Linked DNA regions of Homo sapiens: regions 1 and 2 are each linked to region 3. Evidence: fine-mapped expression QTL. A gene starts in region 3. Each other region holds a variant in brackets. All regions are shown on one strand. Distances are between the middles of the regions.

What was found. PIP is the estimated chance that this variant, and not a neighbour inherited with it, causes the effect.
Region 1: its variant is the best candidate, but not a certain one, in a credible set for the expression of SMAGP in whole blood (INTERVAL, PIP 0.61).
Region 2: its variant is the best candidate, but not a certain one, in a credible set for the expression of SMAGP in whole blood (INTERVAL, PIP 0.86).

Annotation. Positions count from the first base shown.
Region 1 is chr12:51,310,694-51,315,693 of GRCh38, reverse strand. It overlaps BIN2 (bridging integrator 2), which reads left to right. Exons shown (of 13, transcript NM_016293.4): 2 at 1,791-1,871. Among named protein-coding and RNA genes, the nearest start is that of BIN2, 11 kb to the left of the region's middle. The variant C/GC (reference allele first, on the strand shown) is at 2,467.
Region 2 is chr12:51,298,230-51,303,229 of GRCh38, reverse strand. BIN2 (bridging integrator 2) reads left to right here. Exons shown (of 13, transcript NM_016293.4): 3 at 89-143; 4 at 450-544; 5 at 1,115-1,210; 6 at 3,516-3,623; 7 at 3,942-4,027. Among named protein-coding and RNA genes, the nearest start is that of BIN2, 23 kb to the left of the region's middle. The variant C/T (reference allele first, on the strand shown) is at 2,858.
Region 3 is chr12:51,267,511-51,272,856 of GRCh38, reverse strand. It overlaps SMAGP (small cell adhesion glycoprotein), which reads left to right and starts at 2,442. Exons shown (of 4, transcript NM_001031628.2): 1 at 2,442-2,601; 2 at 3,541-3,612. The coding sequence starts at 3,579. RefSeq lists silencers at 2,384-2,463, 2,504-3,173 and an enhancer at 2,268-2,768.

The DNA of each region.
Region 1 (5,000 bases), 43 kb before region 3:
AAAGCCCCCATGAGAGAAGTGTCCCTGCCCAACCTCTCTAACCTCATCTATCTAGAGGAACCTATGGCTATAGCTGAAAACAGTCTCTCAAGTAAAAAATGTCTTCAGGGCTCACATTTTACTTAAAAGCCATGCACAGTTTACAGTTTTCTCAACAATACTTGTTTTAATATAATGCTTTTCTCCTTCCTTCTCAAAAACCCACTTTAAATATTAATAACAGGCCGGGCGCAGTGGCTCACGCCTGTAATCCCAGCACTTTGGGAGGCCGAGGCGGGCGGATCACGAGGTCAGGAGATAGAGATTATCTTGGCTAACAAGGTGAAACCCCGTTTCTACTAAAAATACAAAAAAACTTAGTCAGGCATAGTGGCGGGCGCCTGTAGTCCGAAGCTAATCGGGAGGCTGAGGCAGGAGAATGGCGTGAACCCGGGAGGCGGAGCTTGCAGTGAGCCGAGATAGTGCCACTGCACTCCAGCCTGGGCGACAGAGCGAGACTCCGTCTCAAAAAAAAAAAAATAATAATAATAATAACAATGCCAGCCAGCCTAATGGCTCATGCCTATAATTGCAGAACTCTGGGAGGCTGAGGCAACAGGATCACTTGAGCCCAGGAGTTCAGCCAGCCTGAGCAACATAGTGAGACCCTGTCTCTACAGAAAATTTTTAAAAATTAGTGAGGTGTGGTGGTGTGAGCATGTGGTCCCAGCTACTGGGGAGGCTGAGGTGGGAGGATTGCTTGAGCCCAGAGAGGTTGAGGCTGTAGTAAGTTGTGATTGCACCACTGTACTACAGCCAGGGCAACAGAGCAAGACCCTGTCTCAAATAAAATAATGACAATAATAACAATGACATTCAGAAAGATATACCTTATTTCTTTCTTTTTTTTTTTTTGAGACAGAGTTTCGCTCTTGTTGTCCAGGCTGGAGTACAATGGTGCGATCTTGCCTCACTGCAACCTCTGCCTGCTGGGTTCAAGCGATTCTCCTGCCTCAGCCTCCCCAGTAGCTGGGATTACAGGCATGCACCACCATGCCCAGCTAATTTTGTATTTTTAGTAGAGATGGGGTTTATCCATGCTGGTCAGCCTGGCCTCGAACTCCCGACTTAAGGTGATCCACCTGCCTTGGCCTCCCAAAGTGCTGGGATTACAAGTGTGAGCCACCACACCCAGCCAGATATACCTTATTTCTTCTGAGCTTTATATTAATATATATCCTCTAGCTCACTACTACGTATCCCCTAGAGCTACCCCTAATTTGAAAAGAACTACAGAACAGGATTGTTTTTTCAGCAGTTTGTTGTATTCCTAATTCTTTTGGTCCAGTAAGAGTACAGCCCTTCAAGGCCAGGCATGTTGGCTCACGCCTGTAATCCCAGCACTTTGCGAGGCCAAGGCGGGTGGATCATTTGTGGTCAGGAGTTCGAGATCAGCCTGGCCAACATGGTGAAACCCCGTCTCTACTAAAAATACAAAAATTAGCTGGGCGTGGTGGTACACGCCTGTAATCCCAGCTACTCAGGAGGCTGAGGCAGGAGAATTGCTTGAACCTGGGAGGCGAAGGTTGCAGTGAGCCGAGATCGTGCCACTGCACTCCAGCCTGGGCAACAGAGTGAGACTCCGTCTCAAAAATAAATAAATAAATAAATAAATAAATAAATAAATAAATAAATAAGTACAGCCCTTGAGTTGTAAGTGAGATTCTTGACTGAAGCCAGGGTCATATGAGGCCAACATGTAAGAGAGACTTGACTATAACCTTACGGGCCTTTCTGACTTATATCCCTAGGTGCTGCAGAAATTGGGGAAAGCTGTAGAAACCAAAGATGAACGATTTGAACAAAGCGCTAGCAACTTCTACCAACAACAGGTAATCTGGAGGGTAGGGGAGGGAAGCTTGGAAGAAGAAAGGAGACACGAGGGCTGAGTGGCAGAAGAACAATAAGTTCTGCAAACTGGCAAACATCTCCACCAAGCCACCCTCCCCCTAGGGTTAAGGGCTACAGGGTGACCTGTTGCTTATCCTTCCTCGGTGAACTAAAGGAATTTACCAGCCAGGCGCAGTGGATCACCCCTATAATCCCAACACTTTGGGAGGGCGAGGCGGGCGGATCACCTGAGGTCAGGAGTTTGAGACCATCCTGGCCAACATGATGAAACCCCGTCTGTACTAAAAATACAAAAAAATTAGCTGGGCATGGTAGTGTGCACCTGTAATCCCAGCTACTCGGCAGGCTGAGGCAGGAGAATCACTTGAACCTGGGAGGCAGAGGTTGCAGTGAACAGAGATCTTGCCATTGTACTCTAGCCTGGGTGACAAGAGTGAAACTCCATCTCAAAAAAAAAGTAAAAATAAAAATAAAGGAATTTACCTTTTTTCTTGCTGCTGACTGTCATTTTGGGAACAGAGAAATCTCCCTCCCTCCTTCCCTCCCTCCCTCCCTGCCTGCCTGCCTGCCTGCCTT[C/GC]CTGCCTTCCTTCCTTCCTTCCTTCCTTCCTTCCTTCCTTCCTCTCACTGCAACCTCAACCTTCCAGGTTCAGGCAATTCTCCTGCCTCAGCCTCCCGAGTAGCTGAGATTACAGGTGTGTGCCACCATGCTATGCTAATTTTTTCTTTTTATTTTTAGTACAGACAGGGTTTCACCATGTTGGCCAGGCTGGTCTCAAACTCCTGACCTCAGATGATCCACCCACCTTGGCCTCCCGAAGTGCTGGGATTACAGGCATGAGCCACTGCACCTGGCCCACAAATTCTTTACTATATAAATATCAGTTGAATTATATAGAAAATAATTTTTAAAATTATATTAATGGGTTATTAGCTATCATCTAATTCAGTAGCTGAGTGTATATCAGAATCATTTGGGAAATATTTTTAAATGCAAGTTCTCTGGGAGTAGGGCCTGGGAATCTTACTTTTGAACTTTTTGTTGTTGTTATTGGTTTACCATCTTAGATCTGATGAACTTTTTTTTAATGGAATATTTCAAATATGTACAAAGGCAGATAAACTTGTAAAATGAATTCACATGTACTCATCACTCAGCTTCCATAATTTATCCACTCATGGGCAATCATGTTTCACTGTGTCCCCACTCACTTTCTCCTATCCTTGATTATTATGAAACAAATTCTAGATATATCATTTCATTCGGCAACCTAAGTAACGAACAGAGGGAGGCTGTCTAAGAGAAAAAGATATTTATGCGGGAATAGAGCATTGCAATGGGAATATGTGTACCATAGTAAACTATGAGGTATTCAGGGAGGTAAAGGAAGACACATGTTTTCAAAGGAAAAAATGAGAAGGATTACATGATTCTTTGAAAATAATTATCATTGGCTACAAAGATCAATAATAAGGGTGACACCAGTCCAAGGTTGAACAGGCAGTTGCTGGGCAGAAGTCCTTGCAGAAATATTTTTTGTATAAGGTTGTGATGGCCTTTGTGCAAGGTTGTGGTTTTCATAGGATCTTTTGTGATAATTCTTATCAGGCAAATAAGCATGAGAATGCTCTTTTCATAGCCTTCCCTGGCTCTATTATCAGAGATTTTTTTTTAACACTAGTGACTCCATTTTGATTCCAACAACATTGACACATCTATAAAAATTTCATTATCAGGCCGGGTGCAGTGGCTCACGCCTATAATCCCAGCACTTTGGGAGGCCGAGGCGGGCAGATCACCTGAGGTCAGGAGTTCGAGACCAGCCTGGCCAACATGGTAAAACCCCATCTCTACTAAAAATACAAAAATTAGCTGGGCGTGATAGGACATGCCTGTAATCCCAGCTATTCGGGAGGCTGAAGCAGGAGAATTGCTTGAACCTGGGAGGCGGAAGTTGCAGTGAGCCAAGATCGCACCACTGCACTCCAGCCTGGGTGACAGAGTGATACTCTGTCTCAAAAAGAAAAAAAAAATTCATTATCAATCTCTAAAAATAGAACTCTTTTAAAATGTAACTACAATACCATTATCACACCTCAAAATATTTTTCTATACAACATTTACTTGGCCAGGCATGGTGGCTTATGGCTGTAATACTAGCACTTTGAGAGGCCAAAGCAGGAGAATCAATTGAGCCTAGGAATTCAAGACCAGCCTGGGCAACATAGCAAGATCCCGTCTCTACAAAAAAATACAAAAATTAGCCAGGTGTGGTAGCACATGCTTGTAGTCCCAGCTACCTGGGAGGCTGAGGTAGGAGGATTGCTTGACCCCAGGAATTCCAGGCTGCAGTGAGCTATGATCATACCAGTGCATGCCAGCCTAGGCAGCAGAGCAAGACCTGGTCTCAAAAATGAATAAAGTATAAATAAAATATGTACTCATTACAACAAATCAGAAAGTACATGGTTGGGTACAGTGGCTCACACCTCCCAGTGGGAGGCCGAGGTGGGAGGGTTGCTAAGACTAGGAGTTTGAGACAAACCCGGCAACACAGGAGACCTTAACTCTACAAAAAATAAGAAAAATTAGCTGGGCATGGTGGTGCACGTCTGTGGTCCCAGCTACTGAGCAGTGAGCTGTGATTGTGCCACTGCACTCCAGCCTAAGCAACAGAGCAAGACCCTGTCTCAAAAGAAAAAAAAAAAAGCCCCTACATAAAGAAAAAAGAAAGAAATGAATTTAAAAATTAATAATAGGCCCAACATGGTGGCCCACACCTATAATCCCAGCACTTTGGCAGCCCAAAGTGCTGAGCTCAGAAGTTTGCGACCAGCCTGGGCAACATGGCAAAACCCCATCTCTACAAAAAATACAAAAATTAGCTGGTCATGGTGGTGTGCTCCTGTATTCTCAGCTACTTGAGAGGCTGAGGCAAGAGGACTGACTGAGTCTCAGGTCGAGGCTACAGTGAGCTTTGTTTGTGCCACTGCACTCCAGTCTGGGTGACAAAGTGAGACCCTATCTCAAAAAAAAGGAAAAGAAAACAATATAAACAAAACGATTATGATTTTACATCTTCCTAAACTACAACAATGTTATTTTATATCTTT
Region 2 (5,000 bases), 31 kb before region 3:
GCTCTTAACCTACTTTTTGACTTTGACCTCTGGAGCATCTTTTGAAATATTAATCTCTTTAGTCACCAAATGTACTTTTCTCTTTCAGGCAGAAGGCCACAAGCTGTACAAGGACCTGAAGAACTTCCTTAGTGCAGTCAAAGGTGGGCAATGCAGCATGGGAGAATCCAGAGGGCATTTATACAGCTACTAGGAGGTTTGGGGTGGAAAACAATAGCCATACCCCCAGGTTTTTGTCATTTTATCATTTGACTACTCTTGACTCCTGGAATTTTGTGGGCTGAGGAAGAGTGACTTTTCCTTTCAGCCCCATCCAGCTTTCCTCACTTATATAACCTAAACCTTCTGAGTTTGTCCTTCTGAATTGGAACCACTGATTTGTCACCCATGTGATTACACCAACTACTGTTGGGGAAACATGATGGTGGGACTGAATTCTCTCCTTTCAGTGATGCATGAAAGTTCAAAAAGAGTGTCAGAAACCCTGCAGGAGATCTACAGCAGCGAGTGGGACGGTCATGAGGAGCTGAAGGCCATCGTATGGGTAAGAGTGGCTTGAGTTTTACAACTTATTGGCACTTACTCCTGTTTGCATCTCAACCTCAGCTTAGCTTCTCTATCCAAGAAAATAGGAAAACAAAGGAGCCAGTTCACACTGTGCATTTGTGTAGCCTCAGTCACTGGGTGGTAGGAAGAAGCTACAACTGTTAAGGTAAAAACAAGTTTTCCCTAATCTGTGGATCCCTCTAATTTTGACCCTCTTCTCCTCTTTAAAACATTATGGGAAGTTTTACCTCCTAAAGATTGGTTGTTTTTTAAAACAAACTTCATGCAGTTATACACTCTTAAACTTTCCCATCTAAGCTCTGGAGTCCAAGGCTTTGACCTTGTGCCCTGTTCTTAATCTCTGAATGTATGTTCAGACTCCCATAGAGCAGTTCCTTGGGGTAGGGGCTGTCTCTTTTCTTCCTCTGACTAGTCCCCAGAATCCAACATGGTATTCTAAATACGGTGCTACAAAAAAGGTTTTTGCAGGGAGAATTTGGGTATTTCCCTGGTAGGCAGTTGTTGTTGGGAAGTGGAGCCTTCACCAGCCTCTGACTCTATCCTACAGAATAATGATCTCCTTTGGGAAGACTACGAGGAGAAACTGGCTGACCAGGCTGTAAGGACCATGGAAATCTATGTTGCCCAGTTCAGTGAAATTAAGGTACTCAATGTACAGAATCAAGGCTGGGTTGTGGATGACCCATCCAGGTTAGAGAACATATTGGGTTAAGCATTATAAGTAGAATTAGAACTCACGATTAAGAATGAAGTTTGGGTAAGTTAGGAGAAAGATTAAGGTTGAGGGTTAGACAAGAGGTTAGGATAGAAGGTTGGAAGTAGTGTGAAGTTTATGTTTAAACTTAGATTTCAAGGCTGGGTGCAGTGGCTCACACCTGTAATCCCAGTACTTTGGGAGGCCGATGCAAGAGAATCACTTGAGCCCAGGAGTTCGGGACCAGCCTGGGCAACATGGCAAAATCCCATCTCTACAAAAAATACAAAAAAAAATAGTCATGTGGTGGTGCGTGTCTGTAGTCCCAGCCACCCTAGGAGACTGAGGTGAAGGATCACTTCAGCTGGGGAGGGAGAGGTTGCAGTGAGCCAAGATCATGCCACTGTGCGCCAGCCTGGGTGACAGAGGCTGGTGTCTCAAAAAAAGTAAATAAATAAAATAAACTTAGATTTCAGTAAGCTATATTTGGGCTGATTTCGAATTAGATCCAAGTTAGAGGCATCCCTTTTAGCTGTGAGAAACAGCTGATGGCACTAAAGATGTTTATTGTATAGAAGAGGAAACATGGAGCAATCAAATAGTTATCTTCAAATATTTGAAAGTCTGTTAGGTAAAATAGGAATTCAACCTATTCTAAACTGTTCTGCTTTCTGTTCCAGAAAGCAGAATTAGAATTCATCTATTCATTCAGCTAGTTTTTTTTTGTTTTTGTTTTTGTTTTCTTTTTTTTGAGATGGAGTCTTGCTCTGTTGCCCAGGGTGGAGTGCAATGGCGCAGTCTTGGCTCACTGCAACCCCCGCCTCCCGGGTTCTAGGGATTCTCCCGCCTCAGCCTCCCGAGTAGCTGGGATTACAGGCATGCGTCACCAAGCCCAGCTAATTTTTGTATTTTTAGTGGAGACAGGGTTTCTCTGTGTTGTCCAGGCTGGTCTCAAACTCCTGACATCAGGTGATCCGCCCACGGCCTCCCAAAGTGCTGGGATTGCAGGCGTGAGCCACTGCACCCGGCTCTAGTATTTATTAAACACCTACTCTGTCAAGCACCGTGCTGATTCAGAGGAAGAAGTTAGAAGGAGGCTGACTTAAGTTCCTAATAGTTAAAGCTTTCCAAAAATGAAATGAAATAGACTCAAAGATAGTGAGTTGTCTGTTCTTTGTGCAAACAGAAGTCAAACTACTTCTTATCTTGGATGTTATAGAGAAGCCTCATGGTATTGTATGGGAAATTGGACCAGATAATTGCTAAGATCTTTTCAAATTCTGTGACTGAGAGAATGAAACGGTTCAAAGACATAGTTTGCTTCTCACTGGTATAATTTATAGTTTGGATAAGGCTGAGTAGACTTTCTCTCAGTGGTCATAGTAATTTATAGCTTTTATTGTGTTTTAGAGCTTTCAAAGCACTTTGTATTCAGCATTCACTCTTTCAAATAACAGTTGTATAAGGGGAGATGGGGCTACTGAGGCTCCAAAAGAGATGTGCCTTGCCACTGGCCACAGGCTATGAATGGCAGATTTGGGACTAATTCCCAAAAATCCAGACTTTCACTTTCATGTGATTCTCAAGGCCATTTCT[C/T]CTGGAGGCTGAACCAGTTTATAATGGGTTCATAGGAAATATTAAAATTTAATACAGCGGGAGGTGGAGGTGGAAATATATATATGTATTTAATTATATATCTATTACATATATATAATTAATACAGATTTCCACATGCTCTGTAGGACTCTATCTCCCTCTGAGACTCCCCCATTCTTCCCAGATACTGAGGGAGACCCCATGGGCGCAAAACCCTATTAGAAAGTGAAATTTGGGCCAGGTGCGGTTGCTCCTGCCTGTAATCCCAGCACTTTGGGAGGCCGAGGTGGGCATATCACATGAGCCCAGGAGTTCGAGACCAGCCTGGCTAAGATGGCAAAACCCCATCTCTACTAAAAATGCAAAAATTAGCCGGGCTTGGTGCACATGCCTATAATTCCAGCTACCTGGGAGGCCGAAGCACAAAAATTGCTTGAATCTGGGAGGCAGAGGTTACAGTGAGCTGAGATCGCACAACTGCACTCCAGCCTGGGCAACAGAGCAAGACCCTGTCTCAAAAAAAACAAAAGCAAAAAACAACGAAAGTGAAATTTGATAGTAGGATGCAAGAATCTTGCTCTCTGTTTGGTATTCTGTTACCTACATCCTGGCCACTAAAAAGTGAGTATCCACACCCTTTCTCATTACCCTGGGTCAGGAGAGAATTGCCAAGCGGGGTCGGAAACTCGTGGACTATGACAGTGCCCGACACCACCTGGAGGCAGTGCAGAATGCCAAGAAGAAAGATGAGGCCAAGACTGCCAAGGTAAAACAAAAACAACAACAAAAACTGGTAAACCCTTCCTGTTCTCCTTCTCCCCATGGTGGTAGCAGGTGGCTGGGCCAACATGGGTATAGGAAATTATAAATTCAGCATCCAGTGTCCTAAAGGAAATCTGTTTCTTCTGACACTGATGCTGTAAGGATAGTCAGAGTCTTGAGGCTGGGGAGGGCATGGTCAGGGGAAGAAGAGGGATGGCTCCTAAAAAGCCTAGTGCCTAAAAAAATGCAGAGGATGAAGGAGGCATGCTGTAGTACTGGGTTCAGAATTGAGGGAGATTGTCTTGTCTCTTTTACCACCTAGGCAGAGGAAGAGTTCAACAAAGCCCAGACTGTGTTTGAAGATCTGAACCAAGAACTACTAGAGGAGCTGCCTATTCTTTATAATAGGTAATGACTGAAATTCAGAAAAGGTGCCTTTGCTTCACACAAGGCACCTTGTGTGCCTTGACAGTAAGTAGATAAAAGTGTTTTAGATTTAAATTCCCACACTGCCCCGCCCCCTTTTTTTTTTTTTCGAGACAGGGTCTCACTCTGTCACCCAGGCTAGAGTGCAGTAGCACTCAATCTCAGCTCACTGCAACCTCCACCTCCCTAGTTCAAGTGATTGTTGTGCTTCAGCCACCCGAGTACCTGGGATTACAGGCATGTGCCACCATGCCTGGCTAATTTTTTTTTGTATTTTTAGTAGAGATGGGGTTTCACCATGTTGCCCAGGCTGGTCTCGAACTCCTGGCTTCAAGTGATCCCCCTGCCTTGGCCTCCCAAAGTTCTGGGATTACAGGCGTGAGCCACCATGCCCAGCCAGATTTTCCACATTTAAAGAGAAATCTAAGCAGAAACTCCATTTGTATCCTTTTTTCTTTTTATTGTACAAGAGATGCATTAATAGAATTATGGTCAGAATATTTTATATTGTCACTTATTAGTGTACATAGGATGGAGCCTTTTTAATGAACACATGTATTCTAAAACATTATGTGACTCCTAATTAAAATGAAATTGAAATTTTATTTTTTATTTTATTTTATTAATTAATTAATTTATTTATTTTGAGACAGGGTCTCATTCTGTCACCCAGGCTGGAGTGTGGCTCACTGTAACCTATGCCTCCCGGGTTCAAGCAATTCTCCCACCTCAGCTTCCTGAGTAGCTGGGACTACAGGCACGTGCCACCACACCTGACTAATTTTTGTTTTTGTTTGTTTGTTTGTTTTGTTTTGAGACAGAGTCTCACTCTGTTGCCAGGCTGGAGTGCAGTGGCACAATCTCGGCTCGCTGCAACCTCCACCTCCCGGATTCAAGCGATTCTCCTGCCTCAGCCTCCCAAGTAGCTGGGACTACAGGCGCGTGCCACTAAGTC
Region 3 (5,346 bases):
AATTTTTGTATTTTTAGTAGAGACGTGGTTTCGCCATGTTGGCCAGGCTGATCTCGAACTCCTGACCTCAGGTGATCTGCCTGCCTTGGCCTCCCAAAGTGCTGAGATTACAGGCGTGAGCCACTGCGCCCCACCAGTTACATTTTAAAGAGAAAAAAAAGATGCTTATTGAAAGAACATTACTAACAACTGTCGAAATTGTGAAAGTGACAGCAAATCAGTAGAGTCAGTCAGTTGAGCCAGATAGCCTCTGAGTCTGTAGTTCTTTTTTTCTTTTTTTTTTGTCGCCCAGGCTGGAGTGCAGTGGCACAATCTCGGCTCACTGCAACCTCCGCCTCCCGGGTTCAAGCGATTCTCCTGCCTCAGCCTCCCCATTAGCTCGGATTACAGGCGCCTGCCACCACGTCCAGCTAATTTTTATATTTTTAGTAGAGACAGGGTTTCACTGTGTTGGCCAGGCTGGTCTTGAACTCCTGACCTTGTGATCCACCCGCCTCGGCCTCCCAAAGTGCTGGGATTACAAGTGTGAGCCACCGCGCCTGGCTGAGTCTATAGTTCTAAACAATCTTCAACACATAATAGAAAATGTGAAAGAGACAGACCCAGGTCCAAGAACGATCTGAACTTCTCCTGGAATTCATGATCAAGGTGGACAGCTAGAAGTATGTCAATGCCAGCAATTGTCCTCCTTTGGATTTAGCCCTCTAGGATTTTAATTTCCTTTTCTCTTGGATATTCTCTTATCTAAGGACAAGCCAGGCTCACCTTTCTTTTATTAAGTTACATATGCATAGCTGGCATATCACTTTCTTTGCCTTTCTTGGTTGGATTGGCATTTTCCCATGCACATATTTACATATATTTCTCACAATATATTTATATAAAATGAATTTCATCACTTTTTTATTGTTTGTTTTCCTCCTGTATTTGTGTTTGTTTTTTTCTTTTGAGACGGAGTTTTGCTGTTGTTGCCCAGGCTGGAGTGCAATGGTGTGATCTCGCCTCACTGCAACCTCTGCCTCCCAGGTTCAAGCAATTCTCGTGCCTCAGCCTCCAGAGTAGCAGGGATTACAGGTGTGTGCCACCACGCCCAGCGGATTTTGTATTTTTAGTAGAGACAGGGTTTCACCTTGTTGGCCAGACTGGTCTCAAACTACTGACCTCAAGTGATCCACCCGCCTCCCAAAGTGCTGGGAGCCACAGTGCCCTGCCCTCTGGTTTCTTTTATAATGAACACTTTAGGAATAAAAGCAACTACTCTTGCTTTGCTTGTGACTTTGTTTTGTTTTCTCCCTTTATGCCTCTCTCCTCTGAGACCTTCCCTTTCGGTCTGTTCCCGGATTAACATGCACAATCTGATGATGCCTGTCTTTCTACAGAAAGTATTTCTGTATAAATACTGGTTTACAAACCTACAGAACGCCTAGGAGTGCGAAGTAAGCACAGAAGTCTATCACTGGGAGGGAAAGAATAATCACAAGGGTTCCAATCCTAAACGGGAAGCCAAGGTAACAAGACCTAGCGTTTATTGAGCACTTACTATGTGCCAGGCAAGGTTCTAATGCCTTACAGTACATATTTACTAACCTATTTCGTCCCAACAGTCACTCTATTCAGACAGGTATTGCCCCAGATAAGAGAAACGGAACAGAAGCAGCTTGTCCAAGATCACACAGCAGAGCTGATTCCAGTGCCTGCGCTATATACTATTACATCCTCTTAGTCACTGAATTCTTCTGATTAATTTGGGAACATTTCCTGCCACAAACGAGTGAGTCAAGAGGTAGCTAAAGCATGGCACTGATTATTCAAATTGAGGTGCTCACCATGCTTCTAGAACCATGGATATGAGATGGCTTTACAGGCATGATCACTTTCAGACCCGCATTTTAGGAATGAGGAAACAGATTTTCGAGATGTTAATTTGCCCAAAGTCACCCAGCTAGCAAGCAGAAGAGCTGGGGCTGTTTGAATCCAAAGTCCACGGCACTCCTAACCGCTGCTCAACGCTGCCCCACAAGAACGTCCAGCTGGCAAGACCCGGGTGGGGCTCGTTGCTCTCCCCGCTTCACCTCCCTGCTTCACGGCCGGGGGTGTGCTGGCTAAGTTCGCTCATCTGCCAAGCTTCAGGACACAGACCTATGTGAGCAAGCGATAAACAAATGCAAATAAATGTAACTTTCCACATTAGCTAAAAATTCAGAGAACGTCAAGCCCAGGGAAATGGGACGGATCCCAGTTAGCCCGCGGCTCCAATCTGGTCCCCCCCCAACCCCGAGCCTCGCGGCGAGAAAGGAAGCGGCTCCGGATGGAGAGTAAAGTGACAATCGGAGAAGGGCAGGCTGCCTTTCCTCCCGGGGGAGCCAAGGGGACCTGCAGAGGGCGGTTTCTCTCCGCTTTTCCTGTCCCACCCCGTCGGCCTGCCCCCCACCCCCTCCGGCCTCTGCGCCAACCCCGCGCGCCACCCGCGGCTTCCTCCGCTCGGGGTCCTCGTTCGGCCTCTGCTGGCCTCCGCGACTCCGCGGTGCCCGCCCCCGTTGAGTTCAAAAGGACGCGCGGAGCGGCGCCGGCCCTTCACCAGCAGCCCGTCCGACTGGAAAGGTGAGCACGAGGGAAGGGCGGGGGCGCCGGAGAGCCGGGTCGCCCACATTCGCCGCAGCCACCTCGGCCGTGGCAGGAACCGAAACCCGGAGCGGCCGAAGCTCAGCGCTCCGCTGGGGCAGAGGGTCGCGGCGGCTGGGAACGCCGCTCCCCGACGCACCGGCCGCCCCCAGCGCAGCGCGCTCCGCGGGGTGCTGGTAACGCGGGGGGCTCGGGGCGGGGGCGGGGACGGGGGCGGGGCCGCGGGGCGAGGACCAACCCAGCCCGTCGCGTCCACCCCGCGTTCGCAGGGGCGTCGAGGATCTCCGGGGCGCGGGGCGCGGGCTGGGGCCCAGTGAGGCTTGGCAGGCTGTGCGCGGACCGCGCCCTGGACGGCGAAAGCAGGCCCGGAGGGGGCGGCCAGTCCGGCGTCCCAGCGTCCGAGGCGAGCCAGAAGGCGGCCCACGGCCGTCGCCTCCCGGTCCCGGCCCGGCTACTGCGCTGCGCCCACTCCGCTCTGGAGCCTGGGCGCGGGTCCTGACCTTCCCGGCCCTCTCCTGACACCTGGTGGATGGCGTCACCAGAACTCCTAGCTGTGGAACCCTAGGGTACCTGTTACCGCGCTTTGGCGAAACTGGGTTCGCTGCTGATTTGCGAACCTTTGCCTGACTTTCTCAGGCCTTGAGAGATCTAAGTAAATTTGGTGGCCCATTGAAAGGACCTGGAGAGAGCGTATGAAGGTAACACCCCGTCAAACTGCATGCGGCCTCAGACCTGCTCCTGTGGAGAGCTGTTGGTACCTGGAGCCTGAGGAGATATTCAGGGAAACCAGAAGAGGACAAGAGAAAAAGGGGAAGGGACTTGGGAGAACCTGGCACCAGAGGCTTTCCTGGGACTTCCAGGACTCAAAGCCATAGGGGCCCACCCGCTACATTCCTGTCTTTGCCCCTCTTCCTACAGATCTGCCTCTTCTCCAAGAAACTCAACCACTAGTGACAATGACCAGCCTCCTGACTACTCCTTCTCCAAGAGGTAGGTGAAGGCCTTTCCTAATCCCAGTGAGAAAGAATTGTTCAACATCCCCTTCCCCAGACCAGTCCTGGAAGCCTCAGCCCAGGTGGGAAGACTCCCACCTCTCTCTGCCTGCCTCACACAGGAAGGGCCTGGGAGGAAGCAGGAACTAGAGTGTGCCCCTTAGTACGGTTTTAATCTGAAGTCACATGGACATGGTGACTTCACAAATCTTTGTAACCTCGGTTTATCAAATAATTTTATGTCGGTAATCCCAGGACTTTGGGAGACTGAGACAGGAGGATCTCTTGAGGCTAGGTGTTTGAGACCTGCCTGGGGAACATAGTGAGACCCCATTGCTAATTCAAAAGAAAGAAAGAGGCCGGGCGTGGTGGCTCATGCTTGTAATGCCAGCAGTTTGGGAGGTCGAGGTGGGCGGATCATCTGAGGTCAGGAGTTTGAGACCAGCCTGGCCAACATGGTGAAACTCCATCTCTACTAAAAATACAAAAAAATTAGCCAGGCGTGGTGGTGCACGCCTGTAATCCCAACTACTCAGGAGGCTGAGGCATGGGAATCGCTTGAACCTGGGAAGCACAGGTGAGCCGAGATCGTGCCATTGCACTCCAGCCTGGGCAACAAAGTGAGACCGGTCTCAAAAAATAGGAAGGGAGGGAGGAAAGGAAAGGAAGGAAGGAAGGAAGGAAGGAAGATTATTGTATAAGCCTAAAGGAAGGGCTTTACATTCATCTGTCTAATAATTTATAGCTATGGCAAAGAATGTAGCAGAAACCCTTGTAATTAAATGTGGAAAAGGAATCTTCAAAGATAACAGGGAAATCATTTTTTAAAAACCTGCTAAAGATAGTATTGCTAACCTCTAAGCTCCGGTTTCATCATTCACAAAATAGGGAAAATAGTACCTATCTTATGATTTATGAAGATTAAATGAGACAACCCATATAAAACACCTAGAAGAGTGTGTAGTATCTCGTAAGCACTCAGTCACGTTGGTTATTAGCACTGAGTACTTGTTAGAAACCCATCTTTCCCTTGAAAGTGATTTTGCTGGCTTTCTCATTCCACTCCTCTGGTGATACAGACCCAGCATCAAAACCCCATTGTTCCCTGAAGGTGTGCGGAGGCCGGGCACTACTGCTCAGCACTCTGAGAATGGATGCCCACCTTTTAGTTCATCATCAGGCTGGGCCGGACAAACTATCAGTTATTTATTGACTGTTTTCAGCATGTGCTAGTTAGGGAGAGAGAGGAACAAACCCTTGGTTGGTCTATACACCTTTGTCTTCCTATACACAGTCACATTTGTCATTAGGACAGGCATTCTCTGCTTTTACTGATGTGGAAACAGGTGAGTGACACCACCAGTGGAAGTCTAAGACAGTGTCCTCTGTGACTGGTAATGCACACAATTCAGACTTTTAGTTGTCTGGTGAGAAGAGATAAAAGAGAGAAATGGCCAGGTATGGTGGCTCACGCCTGTAATTCCAGCACTCTGGGAGGTTGAGGCAGGCAGACTGAGCTCAGGAGTTCGAGATCAGCCTGGGCAACATGGCGAAACCCCATCTCTACAAAAAAATTTAAAAATTAGCCGGGCTTGGTGGTAGACACCTGTGGTTCCAGCTACTCCAAAGGCTTAGGTGGGAGGATCCCTTGAGCCCAGGAGATGGAGGTTGCAATGAGCCGAGATCATGCCACTGCACTCCGGCCTAGGTGACAGAGCAAGACCCTGTCTTA